3 separate regions of the Homo sapiens genome follow, and regions 1 and 3 are each linked to region 2. The links come from fine-mapping of genetic effects on gene expression. A gene starts in region 2. Each other region holds a variant in brackets. All regions are shown on one strand. Distances are between the middles of the regions. Region 1 overlaps STARD13 (StAR related lipid transfer domain containing 13). Region 2 holds the start of KL (klotho). Region 3 overlaps KL (klotho).

Region 1 (8,187 bases), 110 kb after region 2:
TCACAAAGTAAACATGGAAGCTTCTGCAATCACACACTTAGCTCTAGAGCCAAGGATCCCCTCCTAGGTGAATGTGCTACGCACCATGTCCAGCCGTGCTTGTTGGACATGGAGTGCTTCTCCATGATGGCCGTGAGGCGGAGCAGTGAGAAGCGCTGGAGCAGGCTCAGCTGGCTGGCCGTCTGGCTGCTGATGTGGGGCGATGCTGGGGCCGGCCGGGGCTGGTGCGACAGCTGGAAACTGTTCCATCGGAGTCGCCTTTACCAGAGAGACCATCAGAGAAGCCAGTCACAAAGTGGACTTGGTAGCGGGAAACACGGGACATCACCAAGGTACACGCAGCTAATCAAGATAGCAGCCGAGCAAAGAAAATCGCAAAGCAAATGGAACAGAAGACACAAGTGTGCAGAATAAACATAGGACATGATTTTTCCAAGTCAGATAAATCTGGAAAAAGTCTTATTATCCATTTTATTAGGGGGTTTAAATAAGTGATAGAGGAAATATTATGTTTGTTTATTCCAAATTTGTTCCCAAAGTGTTGAGAGCAAGCTGAGACAGTGTGTGTGTGAGTGAGTGTGTGTGTGTGTGTATGTGAGAGAGAGAGAGAGAGAAACAGAGGGAGAGAGAGAAACGGAAAGAGAGGAAAGAGACGGAGACAGGGAGATATAGACAGAAGCAGAGAGAGCAGAGAGATAGAAAAGAGAGAGACAGATGTAGATGGAGAGATGGAGAGATGAGACAAAAAGAGATACAGAGGCAGAGGATGGAGAGACAGACAGAGACAGAAAGATAGAGACAGAGCAAGAGACAGAGAGAGGGAAGACAGAGATAGAGCAATATAGACAGAGGACAGACAGAGGTAGAGCGATAAAGACAAAGAGAGAAAGAGAGAGAGATACAGACAGGGAGCAAGAAACAGAGAGAGAGAGAGGGAGAGAGCTGTCGAATGTCTAGGGCTGTAGAAAATTTTCTCATTGTCTTCCATGTGTCTACACTCTATATCTTGCTCAGTATTGAGATGGAGCCCGAAGATGAGAGGTACAGAGGTGACACATCACTGAACCACAAGACACACCCTTGCCTCAACCAGAAACCCAGCAGCACAGGGCCATTTTTCTATGGTGCTTCTGAAACGGTCTTTGTAGGTCAGCTTTGATGTACTTTGTAATTGGCACTTTAAAGCAAAAACAAACTTGCAGAGTACACATCTTAGGCCTCAGAAATTTCTTATAGGAGCAAAAAAAGTGTAAAATTTGGGGAAGAGACATTTTGATGAACGCATCACAGGAAGGTCAGGGGAAGAGTCGGTGCCTAGGAACTGGGTATTGGTTATCCAGGATTCCCTGCCTATGGTGCCCAGTATAACGCTTTGCACATAAGAAGCTCAAAATATTTTTGGATAAAACTAGGAACAAAATAAAGGATAAGCACAAATAAATATGAGTTCACATGGATTCAATCACCATGATACCTGTACAGAAGTCATACTTCTGTTCAAATAATTCCTAATCACATACATCACTTAGAACAGAGTCAGGCATTTAGTAAGTACTCTGTGTATGTTTGTTAAAGAAATAAACAGAACACAATTACTATGAAATGGATGAAAAATCATTTCACAAGTGCATGCCACCTACCTGTTTGGCCTGGTCAGAGAGGCCCCTACACCAGAATCCCTCCTGTCTCTGACCCCAGGAGGCTCAGATTCATTAAGAGATGTTACATCTCTTTCCACATCACTGGGTGTCGTCCGACCTTCTGAGACAGAGTTACCTTCAAAATCTAAGGTGATCTGATTAGGAGATGGAAAGGTGGATAAGCCAGGTTCCCCAACCAATGTATCATGAGTTTGCAGTTCAGGCAAGACATCTTTGGACCAGTCATCGACTACCTCTTGGAGCCCATTGACATGCTGCAGAATGTCATCCAAGTGAGGGAAAAGGTCATCTTTCTCCAAGTCCAAAAGATCTCCTGTGCTGGCATACAGATGGGAGCCAGGGACATTGTCATAGATACTGACTCGGCTGGCTCTGTGGCAGGACGCCATGAGCCGGGGCTCCCTGGCACCAGGGACCTGCTCTCTGCCCAGGGAGATGCTACCGGTCCTCCAATTAACCCCATTGCTACTATCTGTGGGAGAGAGGCTTTCAATAGAAAGTGCCTTGGGGAATGTTCCTGGTTTGTGATCCTTGGGAATATGCACCACCAAATTCTCTTGGGAGTGAAATTCATGCATACGGCTTTGGTCCCCTGCATCCGGCAGTGCTGTCCCCGCCAGCACATCTAGGTCCTCCAAGTACATGCCCCCGCGCTTGTTGGCCTCGTGGCACTTGCGTTCCTTCAGGCAGGGCGTGCTCACCCCGCTGCTGCTGTGCTCCGACGGGCTGCTCTCGCCACTCGACTTGCCAGAGCATGGGAGCCCTTTTCTGCAGGCAGGTGGCGGCGAATTCTGGAGATCTCCATTTGGTATTTGGATGCACTGCATAGCCTTAAAGGACTCTGGCTCCTGCTGCAACATGGGCCCACTGATCACCAGGCCACCTGTCCGCCCAGACCCCTTATGCCTCCCGTGGGCTCCCTTCCCTCGGAGTGTTTCCATGCGTTTCAAAAATGATTTGGCCCTAGCCCTCGTGGGCTTCTCATTCTTGGGGTGGAAGGGGTGGTTGAGGACATCTCTGGGGGGCTGTGGGAGGCTGCTGCTGACGAGTGGGGCATCCAGCATGACCGGGTTGTCTGTACAGCACTGGCCCGGCTGGCTGCGACTGTCGCTGCCTCCACTGCTTTCGCTGTGAATGGAGCAGACCTCAGGCTCGCTCAGGTCTGTGAGGACGCTCTCACTGCTGGTCGTGTTCCTCATCCCCGTGCCTCCCGGTGACCCATTTCTGTCTCCTCGAGGGAGCAGCGTGTAGAGGTCGTCCACACGAGACCACCTGCGACTGGTTCTTTGGAAAGTCCATTTGTTGCTGATACAAAGATCTTCCTCATCGGAGTCGTCACCCTGCAGAGCACCAAGGAAAATGCTCATTAGCAGACAGCGTGGCTGAAGCAGGAACTCTGGGTGCTCTGAGGGCAGCCCTGTGTGGTCCTCCACCTCCCTCCCCTCTGTCCTCCCATGCACAGGTGTGAGCTTCTTGGGCACCTCTAAGCTGTCCTTCTACCACTTGCACTGTCTTGTACATACCCTTCCTCCCAGTGGCCAGAGGACCCTTCTCAACTTGCCAAACTTTCTTCCTTCCCATTTTCAAAGAGGTTTTGAATGCCTCCTTCCTTCCTCTCTAAGAAGTTTTCCCTGACTGATTATAAAGAGGGTATAATTACATCAGACTAGACGGTCTAAATATAAAGCACCTGCAGTCTTCTTTTTCACAAAGGAACTCAACTCTGCCATAAAAGGCACTTACTTCTTTCCAGAAACCTCTTCACTGAGCCCCGGGGACCATATTTCCAGCTTGCCCCATCTGAATCTCAGCTTCAGTATATCTCAAAGCTAACACTCCTTATTTTAGTCCCCTGCACTTGATTCTTATCGTGTATTCCCTGGATAAGGTAACAGCAAAATGAACCACTGAATTTCTTTAAGTAGAGATGAGGGAGCCATTCTGGAGATCGCTATTTGTGATCCAATCCGGCTACTCTGCATGAGCGTCTTT[T/C]TCTGTGGAATCAACTCCGAGTCAGAATGCCGTTGGCAGGACGCACACCTCTGTGTGGCTGCAGTGGGTCCCCGCGGCTTGGCACTGTCTTACACTTTGGGCCTCACACATTGACTCTAGGTGTCTGGTTTCTGCCTGAATTTGCAGCCCCTGAGAGGGGAGCATCTGCATTCCCTGAGGCCAGAGATGGCCTGGTTTAGCTTTGCATAGCCTTGGGCCCAGCGCAGACCTTGACCTAGAGCATATCATTTCCTTCTGAAATAAACTGAATCATCGGATCCTGCTTCATCCTCACCAAGCACATCACCAAGACCTAATTCTGAACTGATTTTCAAATCTGTTCCCTCATTCGTAATTTCACTCTCATTCTCTTAGTGTAGGCCTTGCCACCTCTCTCTGGATCTGTTACAGTAAAAATGTGGGAGAAACCCTGTCTCCAGCATCTTCCCCATCTAAATAGCTTTCCACAGTGTAGTCCAAATCGAATCATATGATTTTTTTTTTTCAGCTTAGAAGCCTTCTGCTTGAAAGCCTCCACTCTCAGTTGTTACAGGTGAAGTCATCAAGAGCCGGGCCTGCTACAGTGAGCCGTGATGGCACCACTGCACCCCAGCCGCAGCAACAAAGTGAGACACTATCTCAAAAAAATAAAAAAGAGCAAGACCTGTGTTTCTCTGTTTCATTATTCATATAAACATATTTATTCATATGTATAGCCTGTCCAATGCCAAGGACATAATAATTGCTTATTTTTTGTGAATTGAATTAAATTTATTTTACTCTACCTGGGTGTTCAGTTTTAAGACCTGGTTCCAAGTGTCAGTGATACCAGTTAAGAGCTAGGTGACTGTCCACAGTCTACTTACCCTCTCTAAAGTAAGTTTCTGCCACTTATAAGATTGAAGCGGGTCTTGCCTCATAGGTTTGCTGAAGAGAATAAAGAAGGTAGTGCATTCAGCAGTCCCTCACTGAGAGGTATTTGCTTATTTGTATCTTTCAATGTTTGTTCAATTGCCTACTAATCTTTTTATGTATCTAGCGTCCACTTTAACTCCCTTTAACCTTGCAGTGTGTTGTTTTTAAGGAAACCTAAGCAGATGCACAGTTAATCATTGTGGGGATCCTCCTATTCTTGTTTATTCCTTCAAAATCTAGTTTCCGTGTAGGTTTGACTAAATGACAAACTTGAACATTCAAGTTTAAAGTGAAAGCGAGTACAAAGCCAAGGTACAGAAAAGAATTCTATGGCTTAGAAGTCAGGTGCGGTGGCTGATACGGTTTGGTTGTGTTCCCACCAAAATCTAATCTTGAATATTGTAGCTCCCATAATTCCCATGTTTTGATGTGTTATGGGAGGGACCCGGTGGGAGATAATTGAATCGTGGGGGTGGTTCCCCCATACTGTTCTTGTGGTAGTGAATAAGTCTCATGAGAGCTGATGGTTTTATAAGGGGAAACCCCTTTTGCTTGGCTCTCTTTCTCTCTTGTCTGCCGCCATGTAAGATGTACCTTTTGCCTTCCACCATGATTGTGAGGCCTGCTTACATGAAACTGTGAGTCCATTAAACCTCTTTTTACTTATAAATAACCCAGTCTCAGGTATGTCTTTATCAGCAGCGTGAAAAATGGACTAATACAGTGGCTCACGCCTGTAATCTCAGCTACTTGGGAGTCTGAGGTGGAAGGGTCTTTTGAGTCTAGGAGTTTGAGTCTAGCCTGGGCAACATATCAAGACCCTGTCTCTTAAAAAAAGGAAACAAAAAGAAACAAAAAAGAATCCTACAGCTTGAGATCACAGTGAAAAATGAGTCTGAGTTTTAAAAAAGTTGTATAAAGCTCTGATGAAAGAGTTTAGAAAGTTGTAATTGTACAAGTGGAAAAAGGGCAAGACTCCAGAATGATGACTCAAAATATACTTTCCTACTAGTACTTTCTACTCCCTCTTTTCCTGTGATTGATATAATGAAAACTGACATATGAGGGTCATTTATACACAAGGTGCCATGATAGGCTGAACGTTGAACTTATTGGATTTTTGTATTGCATTTTAGGAAGCTAGTGAGAAGTTGATATTAAATAAGGACTATGAAAAAGCCCTTTTAGCAGACAGTTTTTGAGAAGACAAAAAAAAAGGATATGACTTTAAAGAAAATATAGATATTTTAAAACAGAAACTACAACATTTAGTGTTGGCCCCAACTACCTCTCTCAAACCTGGTTATGATGCCAGCACACCACATACTAGTTGGATAGGGACTCCTTTATTTAGGTTAAGAACACATGCCAAGCTGGGCACTGTGGCCTGGGAAGGGAAAGCCTGGCCCTGTCTGCTGGTCTCTAAGAGCTTATTATACTCACTTTGGCCAACAGGAAGATATTTACAGCCCAACTAAGGCATGTGAAAAAGTGGCAAACTCCTGGGAAAAAAGGAAAACAGCTCAGGGAAATTTTGCAGTATTTAGGTTGTTTGAACCAAAGCAAACAAACAAAAACCAAAGCAATAGAAAGCAAAATGCAACAGAGAAAAAAAACGACCAGTCTTCTTTGGCACCCTGTGCCTACAACGATCATGGTATGTTCCAAAGGGTATTGAAATGGTTGTGTCTGTTTCTTTCACTAATGATGGATATTTCAAACTATTTGATAGTGACACACAACAAAAAATGTATTTTCCATCACAACTCAGGGCATGCATACAGACTATACTAAAGCAAAAAAAAAAAAAATTTATGCTTAAGTAATTATCCTTGTTTGTTTGTATTCTGATACTTTTTAATCTAGTTTAGCCTATTTTATTTTTTTAAATGTTGTTTGTGATCCACCAAATTCACTTGACAACCTACCAAGGGGCCATGATCTGCAGTATGAAAAACACATTGCAGTAGAGTTTAAGGTTTTTTTACGCACTTGGGACCCAGCAGAGCATCAGGCACATTTCAGACTCTCCAGTGGTATTTATGGAAGTGTACTGATTGTTTAAAAGAGATTATCAGATTTCATCTGTTTGATAATTTTTGAGGTTAACAATGAATAGTTTGTGATTATTTAGAAATGTAAAATGGAAATCTCTAGGAGTCAGATGTGTTTATAAAGAAAAGGATACATCAAACTAACTTTATTCTCCTGTCTCAGAAACCATGGACGTACCAGGGACATGGAGCATCAGAATTTCAGCAACACAACTGAAAATAGGTTCCCACGTTGTGGACAATATGGCTCACTAGCTAGATGCTACACAACGGGGTCCAATCTTTTGGCTTCCTTGGGCCATATTGGAAGAAGAAGAATTGTCTTGGGCCACACATAAAACACACTAACACTAATGATAGTTGATGAGCTTTAAAAAATGGCCAAAAAAACTCATAATGTTTTAAGAAAGTTTATGAATTTGTGTTGGGGCACATCCAAAGCTGTCCTGGGCCACATATAGCCCGTGAGCCATGGGTTGGACAAGCTTGCTACAGAGAGTTTTGTCAGTAACTGGTTGAGTAACTCCTCTAAAGCGTGTGACTAAAAGACTGTAAATAACTGAAGGAAGCATGTCTCAAGGTTATGATCATTTTAAGAGTAACTTGAATGGGCCGGAACTCCTGTTTTTAAACTGTAAAGATGGTATTAGGCTATTTGCTAAGGGTTCTTTGAGACTCAGTTTTCAGAGTTAGAAAATGAAAACAATAATAACACATGTCTAGCATGATTTATCAACAGAACCAAATGGGACTATATGTGAAAATACCATATAAACCCTAAAGTGGTAGATGAAACTAGTTATTGTTGTTAGAGAATAGCAATATTGAGAAGTGTGTAGAGCTTAACAGAAGTGAAGGATGACCTGTTAATAAGATAAAATTTCATAAAAGTAAAATATAATGACTCTAACTTCAAAAATCAATTACAGGATCTTCAGGATAAAACGAACATAGTTCAACAGCCCTTCCTGCTATTAATAGTCTTGAGAGTTCTGGCAGATGTAAGCTTAATGTGACTTAACCATGTAATATGGCTACTGAACAAAGACACCAACCTTAGGATGCATGACCAGAGCATAGATCCCAAGACTCAAAAGGTCAGTGCCCATTGCATTCTGCACTGGTCACATATATCAGGAACAATGGGTTCTTTCTAAGCGCTCCACATTTTAAGGGGTACATTTCTAGAGAAGAGTAATCAGAATGGCCAAGGATCTAAGAACCACAACCTCCTGGGGTGGACAATTGAAAGAACTAATAGCTTGATTTAGAAATGAGGAACTCTAGACAGTGCTACTCAGAGTGTGGTCAGGGGGCTGCCAGTCCCCAAACTTGCTCTTTAATGAGGTAGATACAGAAATTGAGAGTAAGAAGTAAAACCATTTGTCACCATTTGAAAAGTCTGTGCTATCTGAGCTCACAATCAGTGGATTTGTCTTACTGAACAGGGTAAAGACCAGTCTGGGTGTAGTCAAATTCAAACGGTGAGTCCTATGAGTGACAGCTGCATGGTACTGGTGTGTGGTCAATCTGATTTACAACAAGTGCCAATTCAAGGTTAGTTT
Region 2 (8,187 bases):
GCCACCACGCCCGGCCAGATTTTAAGTCTTCTTACCACAAAAAAAATAAGTATGTGAGGTAATACATACGTTTATTAGCTCAATTTAGCCACTCTACAAATGTGTATATATTTTAAAATAACATGCTGTACATGAAAATATATATAATTTTTTGTCTGTTAAAAATTAATTAATTAATTAATTTTAAAAAGAGGAGGGCAGGGAATACTTGTGTATTTTGTTAACTGGACAAATGAAACTCTACTTTCATTTGCTCATTAAACAAATACTTGTTTTGTGCTCAGCATGATTCTAGGCACTGGGACTACTGCATTTTGGTCCATTACTTCCTTGCGCACAAAAACCCTTTCTTTTCACCACGAATACACTATGAACATGTTTTTTTCTTCAGTGTTGGCATCTCTTGATTCCTTCCCTCCAGGTCTTTGTGCGAGTTTTACTCTTTAAACCCCAGATATTGTCATATTTTTCTCTGTTAAACTTTTCCAAACAACTCAAAATAGGGTAATTTCTTCTTCTTCTGAATTTCTCTGACAATTATTCTATGGGTCATTTATTAACACAGCATAATCAAACAACTTATTTATTTTCATCTTTCTTGATCCTTTCTTCAGTTGGATGTTGTCTTTGAGGGCAGAGGTTGTCCTCTATGTTTTGAAGTCTCCACACAGCTCGTCGTTGCCTTGCCCGTAGTTGTAGCTCAGTGAAATAAAAATATGTCCGTAGAAGGTGATGTCTGTGACTGGTGAGCTGAGAGCTTGTGGGGTTGGTGTTGTATTTGGGTGCATGTGAATCAGTGCATCTCCTGCTCCATTGGTGTTAAAAGGCTCCCATCGTCCTGGGAACACAATAGGAAAGAGAACAGGTGGGAAGGCACTGGATGAAGGAATGTGGAGAATGGAGGAAAAGTTGATCAGATTGTTGACAACTTTCAGTGTTGAAATTGTCACCAAAATCAAAGTCAGTAAATAAATTTACAATGTCCTTTTCTTCAATGCATCAATAACTTCACCTTCCTGTTCAAAGCACAGCAAGTAATTAATCTCTTATTTGCATTTGAAACCCAAGTTTCAGATGTTTGAAGGTGGTTGTAAAAAATAAAAACCAAAATAAAGCCAAAATAAATAAGCAGCAGCACTAGGCCGGGCACAGTGTCTCACACCTGTAATCCCAGCATTTTAGGAGACCGAGGTGGGTGGATCACAGGAGATCAGGAGTTTGAGACCAGCCTGGTCAGCATGGTGAAACCCTGTCTCTACTAAAAATACAAAAATTAGCCAGGTGTGGTGGTGTGCCCTTATAATCCCAGCTACTGGGGGGCTGAGACAGGAGAATTGCTTGAACCTGGGAGGCAGAGGTTGCAGTGAGCAGAGACCATGCCACTGCACTCCAGCCTGGGCGACAGAGTGAGACTCCGTCTCACACTTGTGGAACCCAGAACTTAGTAACCATGAACAGAACCTTAATAAACAGAAAGTTCTGGAAATAAAGTTTAATCATCATGCAATCTTTATCACTGGGTTAAATGAACAATCATCTGGGAACATGTCTTGGAATGCTTAAAGCTTTGAGATGCATGTGCCTATGTGGCAGACAAATTTCAAATGTGAAACGTTTAGTTAACTTGGTCTTGCTTTTTAATCACTGCTTTAAAATTTAAAAAATGCTGCTGGTCAAGTAAAAATAGCAATAGATAAAATCTGCCCTGAGCAAACAGACCATACATCAATAAATGAATACTTAGCTTAAGCGATTTTCCATGAGACCCATGAAGCATTTCTAATTGAAACTTAACAAGCTACAACCCAACAGACACTCCAATCTTCACTTCTAGAAGGGAAATGTGATACTCCATGTAGACGTAGCTTTTTAAATTTAGCTGGAAGACAGCGTGACAGTGAAGTTGTGTGCTGTAATTTTTTAAAATTGCTGAAGTGTCATGGTTTGCTATTTCGTATTTATTGAAAAAATGTAAATGCTATATTTAACAGAATGGCAGTAACTCTGTTTCAATCTGAAGACTTAATCTTACTAATCATGGTAATATATGCTGGCTGGAGTTGGGAATATTTCATAAAATACTGGAATAAATTTGTGCTTATATTTCAGGGGAATTAATAAAAGCACCTTCATCTGCAACATTTAAAATGTTATTGCCTTTAAATTTGTATTAAATAATGCAGGGAAGATAGATCACTGGGGGAGAATGGATGCACCTCTGTGAGGATCTTGGTCATTCAACACACGTGTACGGGTGAGGAAACTAAGGCACGACTTACTGGGTAGGGAGGTAGGGATATTAGCAAGATCCTTCACTTGTCTGGGCTTTCTGTCTTTGAGTCACCTTTGCGCAGTTTTTCACTGGACTTCACAAGCCTCTGAGGCGGCAGGGCAGACAGGACATCCTTATTTTATAGAGGAGGAAACTTAGGCTTACAGAGGTTTCCTGCCCCAAATCACAAAGGTGGAGCCTAGACCTTCTCAGTCTCCACCAACTGTATTTCGGTTAGCCACAATCCTATCTACCCACATCCAAATGGACACTGTGGCTCTGCAACTTCTGTCAAAAGGGCTCTTTGGCAACAGGAAAAACGTCATGGCTCCATTGTATTGTAGAGGATGGGAATGGGTGTTCCGGCTAAATTCTCCCTCCCCTTTCCCTCCACAGCTCAGATGGCAAATGTGCGACCCAGGGACCTCCCGCTCCAGCAGACCTGTGCGCACAACTTTGCACAGATTACCTGCTAAGTCAGAGCCGAAAGGTAACACAGATGCCAAAGGATAATAAAGGTGAATGAGATTTACTCAAAATTGGAAACTTGGTGTTTGGTTTTTCAGGAGAACAATCAACGACTGTGATTTGAAGTTCACCAGGGTATTCTGAGAGATCTAATCAAAGATAGAGTGCTGGTTTGAAATTATTAAAAGGTAACAGTAAAAGGGAGAGCAAAACCCCAGTCCCAACGCAACCCATAAATCTACTTTGTCTTCCTCGAAAGAGGGGCGCGGGTGGGCGCGTCTCCCCGCGAGCATCTCACCTAAGGGGGAATCCCTTTCAGCGCACGGCGAAGTTCCCCCTCGGCTGTCCCACCTGGCAGTCCCTCTAGGATTTCGGCCAGTCCCTAATTGGCTCCAGCAATGTCCAGCCGGAGCTTCTTTGGGCCTCCGAGTGGGAGAAAAGTGAGAGCAGGTGCTTCCCCAGCGGCGCGCTCCGCTAGGGCCCGGCAGGATCCCGCCCCCAAGTCGGGGAAAGTTGGTCGGCGCCTTTTCTCCCCGACGAAGCCGCTCCAGGGCTGCTCTCAGAGGACGCGCGGCAGGCAAAGAGAATGAACCTGAGCGTCCACGAAACGTCCTGCACGGCTCCCGGGAGCTGGGAGAAACAGGTGCCTTTCTCCGACGTCCGCGGGCGACGCCTGCCGCACCTTGCCCGCTGCCGCGCCCCTCCCGGGCACCCCTCGCCCTCGGCGCCCCTGCCCCCGCCCCCAGTGCCAGGGCGGAGGCAGTCCCGGCTCGCAGGTAATTATTGCCAGCGGAGCCCGCCGGGGAGCGGGGGTGGGCGCGCCGGCGGTGGGCGGGCGGGCGCGGCGGGGCGCGGGCATAAAGGGGCGCGGCGCGGGGCCCCGGAGCCTGGCTCCCGCGCAGCATGCCCGCCAGCGCCCCGCCGCGCCGCCCGCGGCCGCCGCCGCCGTCGCTGTCGCTGCTGCTGGTGCTGCTGGGCCTGGGCGGCCGCCGCCTGCGTGCGGAGCCGGGCGACGGCGCGCAGACCTGGGCCCGTTTCTCGCGGCCTCCTGCCCCCGAGGCCGCGGGCCTCTTCCAGGGCACCTTCCCCGACGGCTTCCTCTGGGCCGTGGGCAGCGCCGCCTACCAGACCGAGGGCGGCTGGCAGCAGCACGGCAAGGGTGCGTCCATCTGGGATACGTTCACCCACCACCCCCTGGCACCCCCGGGAGACTCCCGGAACGCCAGTCTGCCGTTGGGCGCCCCGTCGCCGCTGCAGCCCGCCACCGGGGACGTAGCCAGCGACAGCTACAACAACGTCTTCCGCGACACGGAGGCGCTGCGCGAGCTCGGGGTCACTCACTACCGCTTCTCCATCTCGTGGGCGCGAGTGCTCCCCAATGGCAGCGCGGGCGTCCCCAACCGCGAGGGGCTGCGCTACTACCGGCGCCTGCTGGAGCGGCTGCGGGAGCTGGGCGTGCAGCCCGTGGTCACCCTGTACCACTGGGACCTGCCCCAGCGCCTGCAGGACGCCTACGGCGGCTGGGCCAACCGCGCCCTGGCCGACCACTTCAGGGATTACGCGGAGCTCTGCTTCCGCCACTTCGGCGGTCAGGTCAAGTACTGGATCACCATCGACAACCCCTACGTGGTGGCCTGGCACGGCTACGCCACCGGGCGCCTGGCCCCCGGCATCCGGGGCAGCCCGCGGCTCGGGTACCTGGTGGCGCACAACCTCCTCCTGGTGAGTGCGAGGGGCCAGGCGGAGGGCCACGCAGGGGAGACAGAGGGCCTCCACAGGGGCCAGGGGGAAGTGTGGGAACTGAGTCTCCCCCAGACGAGGCTTCACTTGGACACGTGTATGTGGTCACCGGGGGAAACTGAGCAGTTCTGACTTCCCTTGGAAGGCGTGGAATTAGGAGAGAAATCCCTTAGTGGGCACACGAGTGAGTGCCCCTTGGAGTCCATCTGTGGAAAGGAAGCGGTGATAGGTTTCCGCAGTGAGGAAAGAAACTCCTTTCTCTGGGTGTAGAGGAATTCCTAGAGGTGAGGGCGGGGAGGATTTGCTAGGAGTAACTGCAGGAAGAGAATGAGCAGGGTGGATGAAAGAAACACGTTTGTTCTTAAGCCGCACAGATAGCATTACTCTCTGGAGCTGTCACGAGTTCAGTGTTAATCCAATAAGATCTGTCTTGCTTGTGGCACAAGTTCACACTGTTGTGAAAGTGTCAAAACACAACTCCCGGAGAGTCAGATTTAAACTGTGTTTGGAGGTCCCTTCTGCGGCAGGGCAGGGAACTGCATCCACCAATCTTATTCACCGGGGTGTGAAGACCGCTTTATACAATCTCAAACAAAGCTAGTCATAGAAACACAGAAACAACTGCAGGGTGATATAGATTGTTCTACCACATCTATATTTCCACAGTGCTCTCTACAGTTGAAAGGGTTCCTCACTTATGACATTGTTAGCCTGATAAAATTAATTGTAACACCCTTGTGCAAAATATTTTATTAATTTTGACAGCAGGAAATATTGCTATGCCATGGTAAAGTTGTCTCAAGTATTTCTTCCTCCTTTTTTCTCCTTAGTGTTCAAATTTAGGCACCATTGTTTTGGGGATTCATTTATAATCATGTCAGTTGTTAGTACACTTTGTACAGAGTTTTGTATCACAATAAAATATTTTATGTACATGTATAAACATTTTAATAAAAGTGTTTAAATGTACAACTTTTGGTACCCAATTCTGATCACTTGTGGGCCTACTGGAAGACTTATTTTTAAATTTAGAATTCAGCCACATATTCTGAACAAAGTCAGTACTAAAACCATTTCTAAACACTTTTAATTAAAGCCATAGATAATATGGGCAGAGCAGTACTGGGTTATTGAGGTGACTTAGTGCTCTGAGCTGCTGGTAATGTTGTAATAATGGCTAAATTAGATTTTATGTCAGTTCCACAAAACCTGTTTGCTGCTACTGGCCATAAAAGAATGTTGGATTTGTTTGGAAACACATTGTGATTTTTGTGATTTCATACTTATGTATGTCTTTTCATAAGGATGTTTTAGAGCGGTGATTCTTATACTTTTTCAATCCTTTTATGGATCTGAAAAACTCTAAAGACCACCAGTGTATGGCTGGTGATAGAAAAACTATGGGAAGAATGGTCTCACTTTTTGAAGAAAACATAAGCAAGTTATCAGTTCATACTGGAAGCAAATAAATGGATCAGCTGGAGGATCTAATAGATCATGCCCATAAAATCTTTACTTTAGATTTAAATCCTACAAGTTCTATTTTTAGAGTCCCTAGGATAAACTTGCATATACAAAGTAGTCAATTGTTATTATAGTGACTTATAGGATCATTTTATTATAAGATAAAGACTTGCGTGCTCTCTGGTGCTCTGGTGTTTTAAATAATCAACATGTTTTAGATCTTTTTGCCCACTCATGGCCCTCTGATTAACTTCTCAGTTATATTTTTCAATGCTTACACAAAAAATTTGCCAAACACTAACCATCCTTCCTAGAAATGCAGTGGACTTTGTATTTAGGGAAATTAGTAACAGGTGAATGCTCCATTTGCTGATGTTGCAAACAAACTGTTAGTTGGTGTAAAGTATTAATTTTGCTTTCACATTTCTTTTGGTTTGGTGTTTAGTCATTCTTGTATCTTATTTAGAAGCGAGTTCCCATTGTCAAAGAAAGTATCTTGAATTAATTTTGTTGTATGAGATACTTTCATTCTGTTTTCAATGACCTTTCTCGGTGTGTATATAGGGGTTGGGGGAAGCGAGAATAGAAAAATTTGAGCTTACCTGAAAAAGATAAAACATTCTGCAGATTTTGATAAAAGGGCATTTTAGCTGGGGCTTAGATATTGCTGCTGTACAGATATAGGGGCCAGTTGTGTTCCGGGATCTGATGTTGGTGAAGGATAAAGACTGGCTAGCACCCTTCCCTCACTCCCTCTGTGTTTCCACTAACTTACAAATGGGCTAAGGAGATCCCCTGGGATGATGGGAAGCTTGACCCCTCCTAGAGAGTCAAGAATCATTGATGGCCTGGAGGACAGGAGGCAGAACAAACAAACAGCAGGACAAATAATGGAGGCCCTGCTCAGAATGGAGGTCTTGGTGTTCTTTGTGGGTTCCTCATACTGGAGTGAGCCTTGGCAAAAATGGTGTGTGTGTGTGTGTGTGTGTGTGAGAGAGAGAGAGAGAGAGAGAGAGGAGACAGAAGAGAAGGAGAAGAGGGGAGAGGGGAGGAGGGACAGAGAGAGAGAGGTCTCCTACAAAGAGCTTGGAGCTCAGGCTGCTTTGCTCATTTGAGTGTAATCCAGGAGGATGCACCTTTTCTCTCGGACTTGAAGACCAACTGCTCAGCCTTCACAGCTCTTGAAACAAAGTTCTTAATGTCCCCTGAAATCAGCACTAGGGACTGTAGTTGGGGAGTTCAGCCCCAGCAGTGCCTCTGAGTCTTTGTTCTGTATATGGGTTCTAAGAGGATTAGAATCAAGTTGGAAATACACGTGTTCCCATTTCCCACCTTCAACTCCCCTCACCGCCTGAGATTCTTGCAAACATTTGTGCAAGGAACCTGTGAAAAAGACTTCTTTCACGTAAGGAAGTAGGGCTAGGAGATATTAATCTGGGCATTGTTGAGCATTAGCATCAGTGTGCAGGTCTCAGCCCATCTGTCTGCAATGTTTGTTGAAGCCATCACTTCTTGTCCCTTGAATCCTTCCTCAACTTGGATTTCAGGCCCTGGCTCTCCCTTGCTTCTCCTCTCAGCTCCCTGGCGATTCCCTCTTAGTCTCCTTTGCTTGTTCCTCCTCACCTTGCCTGTAAATAGTGGAGGGCTCAGGGCTCTGTCTAGATTCACTCCAGGCCATTGCTTTGAATACTGCTGCATCCCGATGACTGGAGATTTTGAGTCTCCACCCAGGTTTCCCCGAGCATCAGACTGGCATAGACAACCGCCTTCTCCACGTGGATGTCTAATGGGCATGTCACATCGAACACATCCCAAACCAAACCCCTGCTTCCCCTTCTCTATTATGATGACTTTTTACTCTTCCAGTTGTTGGACCCCGAATCTTAACTACTCCCCTTTTTCATGTCTTGTTTCTAATCCATCAACAAATCCTGCAGCTCTACCTACCTCCAGGATGTGTCCAGAATCAAACCACTTCTCCCCTTATCTATGACTACGATGGAGGTGCAAGACACCATCCAACCTTGCCTGGGTAATGGGAACAGCCTCACTGCTGGGGTTCTTATTTCTGCCTTGCCCCCTGCAGTGTGCCATGATGGATGCTCTACAGGGTGACATTATGTGTGGACAAGACAGAGTCCTTGCTTTTTCAAATCCCACCTGTTCTTCTGGAGCCAGCTAACACGCTCCCTTGGGCCCCATGCCTGAATGCCATCTCTTCCTTCTATGGCATCCTGCACAGG
Region 3 (8,187 bases), 26 kb after region 2:
ATAGTAAATAATTTGAACTAGAAAATTTTCCAAAATTGAAAATTCCAGTTTTAAAAAATTTGTGTTTTCTTATTCAAAAAGCAATACATATTTCGTTACATAAAAGTCAGAAAATCAGAGAAGCAGAAGAACATAATAAATGCCCACTGTCCTACTCAATAGAGACTATAACTGCTATCTCTGTACAAATCCTTTAAAATCCTGTCTTATGTGTATTTATTTTACATCTGTACATATGATTCCAAAATTAGGTAATACTGTACGTGGTCTATCTATAGCTAACTATAGTTTGTAATTTAATAAGCTATATTTGTCCATGGTGATCATTTATTGCTCATAAAATTAATAAATTATAATTTATTTATCAACACTGATCATTTGTTGCTAATAATTTATTTCATTTAATGTCTTATTCCTGGGTTATTTTAACTAATCCCTATTGTTAGCCCTTTAGGTTGTTTCAACTAATTTAAGAATTATAAATGGCCCATAGTAGTTACTTAATAAATATTTGAGTGAAAGGATAAATGAATGAATAATTCCACATTATTGGATGTTCAAGTTGTTTCCATTCAACTTTATTGTTGTGGGGGAGTATAATACAATCTTGGTGAAGAGCCACCAACTTAGGAAGAACTATGAAGAAGCATGTTATTTACTCCTGCTTGTGGGTGGGGTGCATTGGGAAAGGAATGCCTAAATGCACGTGGGGAGCCAAACAAGACTTCACAGGGGAGATGGGAATTGAGCCAAATTTGGAAGAAGTGAGAATTTTCAGTTGATAATTGGGGAAGATAGTACTAAGAGTAAGTGGGGTTCATTAGGAACTACTTCTTAGAAGAGGCAAGTCCAGAACAGAAGGCAGAAAGGGATATGGATATGAAGGAAAAGTAGAATGCAACTTCAGGGCTAGTAGGTTGGCATCCAACGTAGGTACAGCCCTGGATGAGGAGTAATGAGAAACTGACCTGGCTGTAGCAAAACAGCTAGGCTGGGAAGTGATGCTGTTTACATTTATATGCGATTCTACTGGTCTTCCTGTTACTTTGTAGAAGACTGTAAGGCTTGGTGCTCAGAGCTAGAAATGCAACTTATTTGATTTGCTAAGAAGTCCAAAGCAGGTAGGGGTGCCAAGCTGCTGCCTGTTCACACATATTCGTCTAACTGGGTGTCAGGGAAAGCAGATATGAGCCCCCTTGCATTGGTTAAATCCTGAGCAACTTTTAAGGAACTGCACACAGAGACTACTGGCTATTTTTTGTGGATAAAGTTGTAGATAGTTATTTTTGGGAAATTATTTATGTGTTCTATTAGGTGGTTGTTTTGTGGGAGGCTGTTTGAAATTCTGTCTTAAGGAACTGCAGCTTATAAACCATAGTGCTGATAGAAATAAGAGAAATAATTTGGTCTGCGAGCACAAACATCAGGCTAGTTGGCATGCTTATGTAAACACCACACAGTAGCAGTGACTTTTAAGGAAGTCCTCAGACAATGTAATCCCAATACTCTTCTTGAAGTTGAGGTAATAGGGTGCCAGAAAGAAAAAGAAAATAAATCTCTAGTGCCTTCTAAAATTTTTTCAATCCTTTGACCTTTTTGAAAACGGTCACCTTTAATTCAGAACTAAAGTAACATCTGGAGGGCCCTTTTCTTAGATAGGGAGAAGACATAAATGAGCTATTTGAATTATTTTCTGCTTATGGGCTGCATTTCATTTCTTCCACCATTGGTCTCAGTCCATTTAATTAAGATTATTTGTAGGATTAAATTAATCCTTTAAGAATTATTCCATTTCAATTTTTAAAAAATCTAATGAATGATAGATAACAAAAAGCGGTCCATTCAGTATTACCCCTGAAACATATTTGGGTGATTGGTGATACCATCCATGTCTCTCCAACTTCAGCTTCATATACTCAGCTGAGTACCAGGCATCTTCATTGAAAGCTAGACTTGTGACCTAAATAGAACTTGATCCCTTCCCTTCCCCAACTCCTTATTTTTTGTTTTCTTTGAGTTCCTTGATTCCTCTTCCCCTCCTCACATGCAACATGTAACATCCAATTCATCAGCAGGTTCTACAGATTCTGCCTTCAATAATAGCCTAAATCTAGCCACTTGTTACTATCTTTTTTGGTCCAAACCATCATGATCTTTTGCCTGGACCATTGCAATAGTTGTCTAACTGGTATCCTTGCTCCCATTTTGTCCTCCTAGATCCTATTTTCCACGTAGTAGCCACTGATTTTTGGAAACTTATCAATCATTACCCAGACACAATGAGTACATTTACATAGTTGTTTGATTCCATTTACATAAAGTCCCACAATCACTCTATGTACTGGGAATCACAACAGTGGTCTCCTATGTTGAGAATTGATTAAGAGTCACAAGGAAACAAGGAGTAATATTCCATTGTATTAACAGACCACACTGTTCATACATTCTCCTGTAAATGGACATTTATGTTGTTTTCAGTTTTTTTGCTATTGTGATTAAAGCTATTAGGTTGGTGCCAAAGTAATTGCAGTTTTTGCCATTACTTTTTAAATGGCAAAAACTGCAATTACTTTGGCACCAACCTAATACTGTAAGTATCTTTGAACTTACCAATCAAACATTACTACAACACTTGAATAAGAAACACTTCCATAGCATTTACAATTCTAAGTGCTTTCCATGTATTGACTTAGTTAATCCTCACAAGGATATAACCATGAGGTGCTATTACTATCCCTACTTTACAGATGAGGAAATAGAGGCACAGACTTCAGATAATTTGCCCAAGGTCCCACAGCTAATAAGGGGGCAGAATTAGGAAAGCCTGGCTGAGTCTATGCTCTCATCACTTGCTCAACTCTGCCTGGAATGCCCTTCCCGTACCCTCTACCGCCTCTGCCCAATCCTCCGGGTTCTCTGCTCCTTCCACACACCCCCATCTCAGGTCCCAGTCTTTTTTAGCATTCTTCACTTTTTCTGTTACAGATCCTCAGACAATGCTTCCTTGAAGAAGACTTGCCTGTCTAAACTGCCTTCCCATCCCAATCCCTGTTACCTTCTATCCTTTCTCTGCTTTGTTTTCATTTGTTATCTCTCTTCTTCCCAAGAATGTAAGCTCCATAAGAACAGGATCATATTTTGAATCCCCTAGAAAAGTGCCTAGTGTAATATTTGTTGAATGAATATGATCCCTGCAATTAAAAGCTAAATATATATATTTTTTTAACTAACAGATTACTGTAGTAGTTTCAAAGATGAATTTATGTTTCGGAGAAAATC[A/G]GTATTCTCTTGCCACATAAATTGTAGGTAATTATATTTCTATACCTGAATAGCTTTGCCAATGACTAAGATATTAATCTATTATATATTTATTAATCTATAGATCTTTAAAATTGATGCACATGTTTTATAAGCAATTTGATGAATTTTGATGACTACATACACCTGTATGTGTATGGATATCTGTAACAAATATCCAAGTAAAGATATAGAATATTCTCATTACCCCAGAAAGTTTCTTTGTGACTTCTAATCAATTCTCACCTCCGTAGGAAACCGCTGTTGTGATTCCCATCACCACAGACTGATTTTGGGACTTTATGTAAATGGAATCAAACAACTCTGTGAATGTACTCTGTGTCTGAGTTCTTTCAATCTACACAATCTTTTTGACATTAATCCATATTACTGCCTAGAAGAGTAGTTCACTCTTTGCATTAATGAATAGTATTCCATTGTATAAACAAACCACACTGTTTATACATTCTCCTGTGAATGGACATTTGTGTTGTTTTCAGTTTTCTGCTATTGCGATTTAAGCTACTATAAGCATTTTTTTTTAATTGTGATGGGGTTTCGCTCTTGTTCCCCAGGCTGGAGTGCAGTGGCAGCGATCTCAGCTCACTGCAGCTTCTGCCACGTGGGTCCAAGCGATTCTCCTGCCTCAGCCTCCCGAGTACCTGGGATTACAGGCATGTGCCACCACACCTGGCTAAGTTTCGTATTTTCAGTAGAGACGGGGTTTCACCATGTTGGTCAGGCTGGTCTCGAAGTCCTGACCTCAGGTGATCCACCCACCTCGGCCTCCCAAAGTGCTGGGATTACAGTCTTGAGCCACTGTGCCCGGCCAGCATCTTTGAACATATCAATTTGTAAGTTTTATCTTAATATTGTACAAGTCTTTTGGGGGGCTTATGTTGTCATTTCTCTTGGTAAATACCTAGGTATGAACTTGCTAGATTATAGAGAAAATCTATCTTTAATTTTATAAGAAACTGTCAAATAGTTTTCCAAAGTGGTGGTACTATTTATACTCCCACCATCAATGTATGAAATTTCCGTTGTTTTACGTCCTTGCCAGAATTTGTTGGTAGTCTTTTTTTTTTTTTGAGGCAGCATCTCACTGTGTTGCCCAGGCATACAATGGTGTGATCTCGGCTCACTGCAACCTCTGCCTCCCAGGTTCAAGGGATTTTCATGCCTCAGCATCCCAAGCAGCTGGGACTACAGAGGCGTGCCACCACACCCAGCTAATTTTTGTATTTTTAGTAGAGATGGGGTTTCACCATGTTGCCCAAGTTGGTCTCGAACTCCTGGCTTCAAGTGATTCGCCCGCCTCAGCCTCCCAAATTGCTGGGATTATAGGCGTGAGTCACTGTACCCAGCCTGTTGCCAGTATTTTTAGTTGTAGGCATCTTAGTGGGTGTGAGTGCTCGTTGGGGTTTTAATTTGCATTTTCCTGATAGTGTTGATGTTGAGGACATTTCTATGTGTTTACTGAGCATTGGTGAAGATTCTCTTGTGAAATATCTATTCAAATATTTTGCTCATGGTGGGAAGGGGAGTTATTTTTCTTTTACTACTGATAGGTAGGCTTACGTATTTATTTCGGATATAATTATTTTGTCAATTATATACTAATCATAAACAAAAACTGATAAATTGGACGACGTCAAAATTAAAACCTGCTCATCAAATGTTAGCGAAATGTAAAGGCAAATCACATACTGAGGGGAGATATTTTAATATATGTATATTTATATAGTGCTTTCTGTGTTCTAAGAAGTATTTTCCTACTCCAAGATAAAGAGACTATTCTCTTACATTTTGTTCTATAAGTTTTATAGTTTTAGCTTTTAGCTTTGGATCTATGATCTGTCTCAAATTTTTATGCAAGATTGGGGTTTAATTTTTTCATACACTTTTCCAGTTGTCAAGGATCATTTGTTGAAACGTCTTTCCTGTTGCCACATAATTGCTTTGATGCATTCGTTAGAAATCAGTTGGCTGTGGGTTTATTTTGGAATTTTCTGTTCTGCTCCTTTGATGTATTTGTCTATCCTTATGCCAATATCACCCTATATTAAATAATTATAGCTTTATAATAAGTCTTGAAATCAGGTAATGTGAATGTTTCAACTGTGTTTTTCCTTTTTCTAGTTATTTTAGCTGTTTTATGTTCTTATTGTATATATTTTAGAATCAACTTATTCATTTCTACAAAAAGTTTATTGGGATTCTGGATGAGATGGTGTTGATTCAGTAGGTCAATCTGGGGAAATCTGATAACAATATTGACTCTTCCAATCCATGAAAATGGTATCTCATTCTTTATTTACATATTCTTTAATTTCTGTTAGCAATGTGTTATAATTGTAGCAAACTTGCACATCTTTTGTTAAATTATTTTCTAAGTATTTTACGATTTTGGTACCACTGTAAGTGGCATTGTATTTAAAATTTATTTTCTGTTTGTTTTCTGTTCATATATAAATGCAATTGATTTTCTTTTTTTTTTTTTTTTTTTTTTTTTTTTGAGACAGAGGCTTACTTTGTCACCCAGGCTGGAGTGCAGTGGCGTGATCAGCACTCACTGCAGACTTGAACTCCTGGGCTGAAGGGAGCCTCTCACCTCAGCCTCCCAAGTAGCTGGGACTATGGGTGTGAGCCAGTGTTCCTGGCCAAATGCAGCTGATTTTTGTATTGACATTGTATTCTGCCAACTTGCTAAATTAACTTATTCGTTTTAATAGTTTTTCTGTTTTTTTAAAAATCTTAGGATTTCTACACAGACAATCATGTTTTTAATGAACAACAAAGTTTGTTTTTTTGTTTGTTTGTTTTTCCCTTTTCAATCAACATGCCTTTTATGTTTTTATTTGCCTTACTGCACTGGCTAGGACCTCCAGTACAATTTTAATAGCAATGGTGAGAGTGTTTAAATGTACTCCTGTGTATATTTTATTCTTTTGGAACTTATTATAAATGGAATTGTTTTCTTAATTTTCTTTTTGGACTGTTCATTGCTATTGTACAGAAATACAACTGACTATTGTGTGTTGATCTTGTACCTTGCAATTTTGCTGAAATCGTTTATTTTTTGCAATAGATTTTTGTGAATTCTTTAGGATTTTCCATATGTAGAATCATGTTATCTGTGAATAGGGATAGTTTTACTTCTTTTCTAACTTGGATAGTTTTTTCCTTCCTAATTGCTCTGGCAAGAACTTCTAGTACAATGTTAGAGAGCAATAGTGAAAGCAGGCATCTTCCTTTCAATCCTGATGTTAGGGGTGAAGCTCTCAGCCTTTCACTGTAATGTTGGCTGTGGATTTTCATAATTTTTTGTTTGTTTGTTTTTTTGTTTGAGACGGAGTTTCTCTTGTTGCCTGGGCTGGAGTGCAGTGGCGTGATCTCGGCTCATCACAACCTCTGCCTCCTGGGTTCAAGCGATTCTCCTGCCTCAGCCTCCAGAGTAGCTGGGATTACAGGTGCCTGCCACCACACCGACTAATTTTGTATTTTTAGTAGAGACGGGGTTTCTCGATGTTGGTCAGGCTGCTCTCGAACTCCTGACCTCAGATGATCCGCCCGCCTCGGCCTCCCAAAGTGCTGGGATTACAGGCATGAGCCACCACGCCCGGCCCATAAATGCTTTTCTTAATCATATTAAGGAAGTTCCTTTCTAGTCGTAGTTTTCTGAGTGTTTTTATTATGAAAGACTTTCAGATTTTTGTAAAATGCTTTTCCTGCGTTAATTGAGATAATCATATGGGTTTTCTCCCCCTTTACTCTATTGATGTAATGCATTACAACGATTTTTTTTAATGTTTACCCATCTTTGCATTCCTGGAATAAATACTAGTTGATTGTGCTGTATAATTCTTAAAATATGCTGCTGGATTTGTTTTGTTAGTATTTGGTTGCATTCTTTTGCATCTATATTCATAAGGGATATTGATCTGTAACTATTATTTTCTTGTGGTGGCTTTATCTGGCTTTGGTATCAAGATAATGCTGGCCACATTGGCTAAGTTAGAAAGTGTTCTTTCTTCTATTTTTTGAAGAGCTTGAAAAGAGTCGTGTTAATTCTTCTTTAAATATTTGGTACAATTCACTATTAAAGCCACTAGTCCTGGGCTTTTCTTAGTTTGAAAGTTTTTGATTACTAATTCAATCTCTTTTACACCTAGATTAGATTTTGTATTTTTTCCTTAGCCACTTTTGGTAATGTGTGTGCTTCCGGGAATTTGGCCAGGTCATCTCTGTTATCTAATTTGCTGGCATCCAAATGTTCATAATGTTCTCTTGTAATCCTTTTTATTATAGAAATGATATACAGAAAAGGTCAGTTACCACTTTCTTTTATGATTGCATTAATTTGCTTCTTTTCTCTTTTTTTCTCTAGTCAGTCTTGCTAAAGGTTGGTCTGTTTTGTTGATTTTTTTCAAAGAACCAACTTTTGATTTTGTTGATTCTATAATTTTTCTGCTCTGTATTTTGTGTATATCCATTCTAATTTTTATTAGTTCCTTTATTCTGTTAGCTGTGAGTTTAGTTGGCTCTTCTTTTTTATTTTCTTAAGGTGGAAGACTAAGTTATTGAGATATATCTTGTTTTTTTTTTTGATGTAGGTATTTAAAGCTATAAAATTTCCTCTGAGCATTGCTTTTGCTGCAATTTATAAGTATTGGTATGTTACATATTCAGTTAGTTTTTTATATACACATTTAAGCTTTTGCTAATCTACCTTGTGATTTCTTCATTGACTTATTGCTTGTTTGAGTGTGTCAACAATTTCCACGTATTTGTGAATATTCTAGTTTTCCTTTTGTTATTGATTTCTAGTTTCATTTCATTGTGGTAAGAAACAATACTTTTTATGATCTCAACAGTTTAAAATTTATT

The links. PIP is the estimated chance that this variant, and not a neighbour inherited with it, causes the effect.
Region 1: its variant is fine-mapped to the expression of KL in whole blood (INTERVAL, PIP 0.95).
Region 3: its variant is fine-mapped to the expression of KL in whole blood (TOPMed, PIP 0.98).

What each region holds. Positions count from the first base shown.
Region 1 is chr13:33,127,289-33,135,475 of GRCh38, forward strand. It overlaps STARD13 (StAR related lipid transfer domain containing 13), which reads right to left. Exons shown (of 14, transcript NM_178006.4): 5 at 1,641-3,001; 6 at 85-258. Among named protein-coding and RNA genes, the nearest start is that of KL, 110 kb to the left of the region's middle. The variant T/C (reference allele first, on the strand shown) is at 3,654.
Region 2 is chr13:33,012,798-33,020,984 of GRCh38, forward strand. KL (klotho) reads left to right here and starts at 3,626. Exons shown (of 5, transcript NM_004795.4): 1 at 3,626-4,462. The coding sequence starts at 3,644. It overlaps LOC124903151 (translation initiation factor IF-2-like), which reads right to left and starts at 3,656. Exons shown (of 2, transcript XM_047430819.1): 1 at 3,039-3,656; 2 at 55-838. The coding sequence starts at 3,645. The coding sequence ends at 648. RefSeq lists enhancers at 3,230-3,805, 3,806-4,383, 4,592-4,651 and silencers at 3,662-3,731, 4,422-4,521.
Region 3 is chr13:33,038,854-33,047,040 of GRCh38, forward strand. The region is part of intron 1 of KL (klotho); the gene reads left to right. Among named protein-coding and RNA genes, the nearest start is that of KL, 27 kb to the left of the region's middle. The variant A/G (reference allele first, on the strand shown) is at 3,280.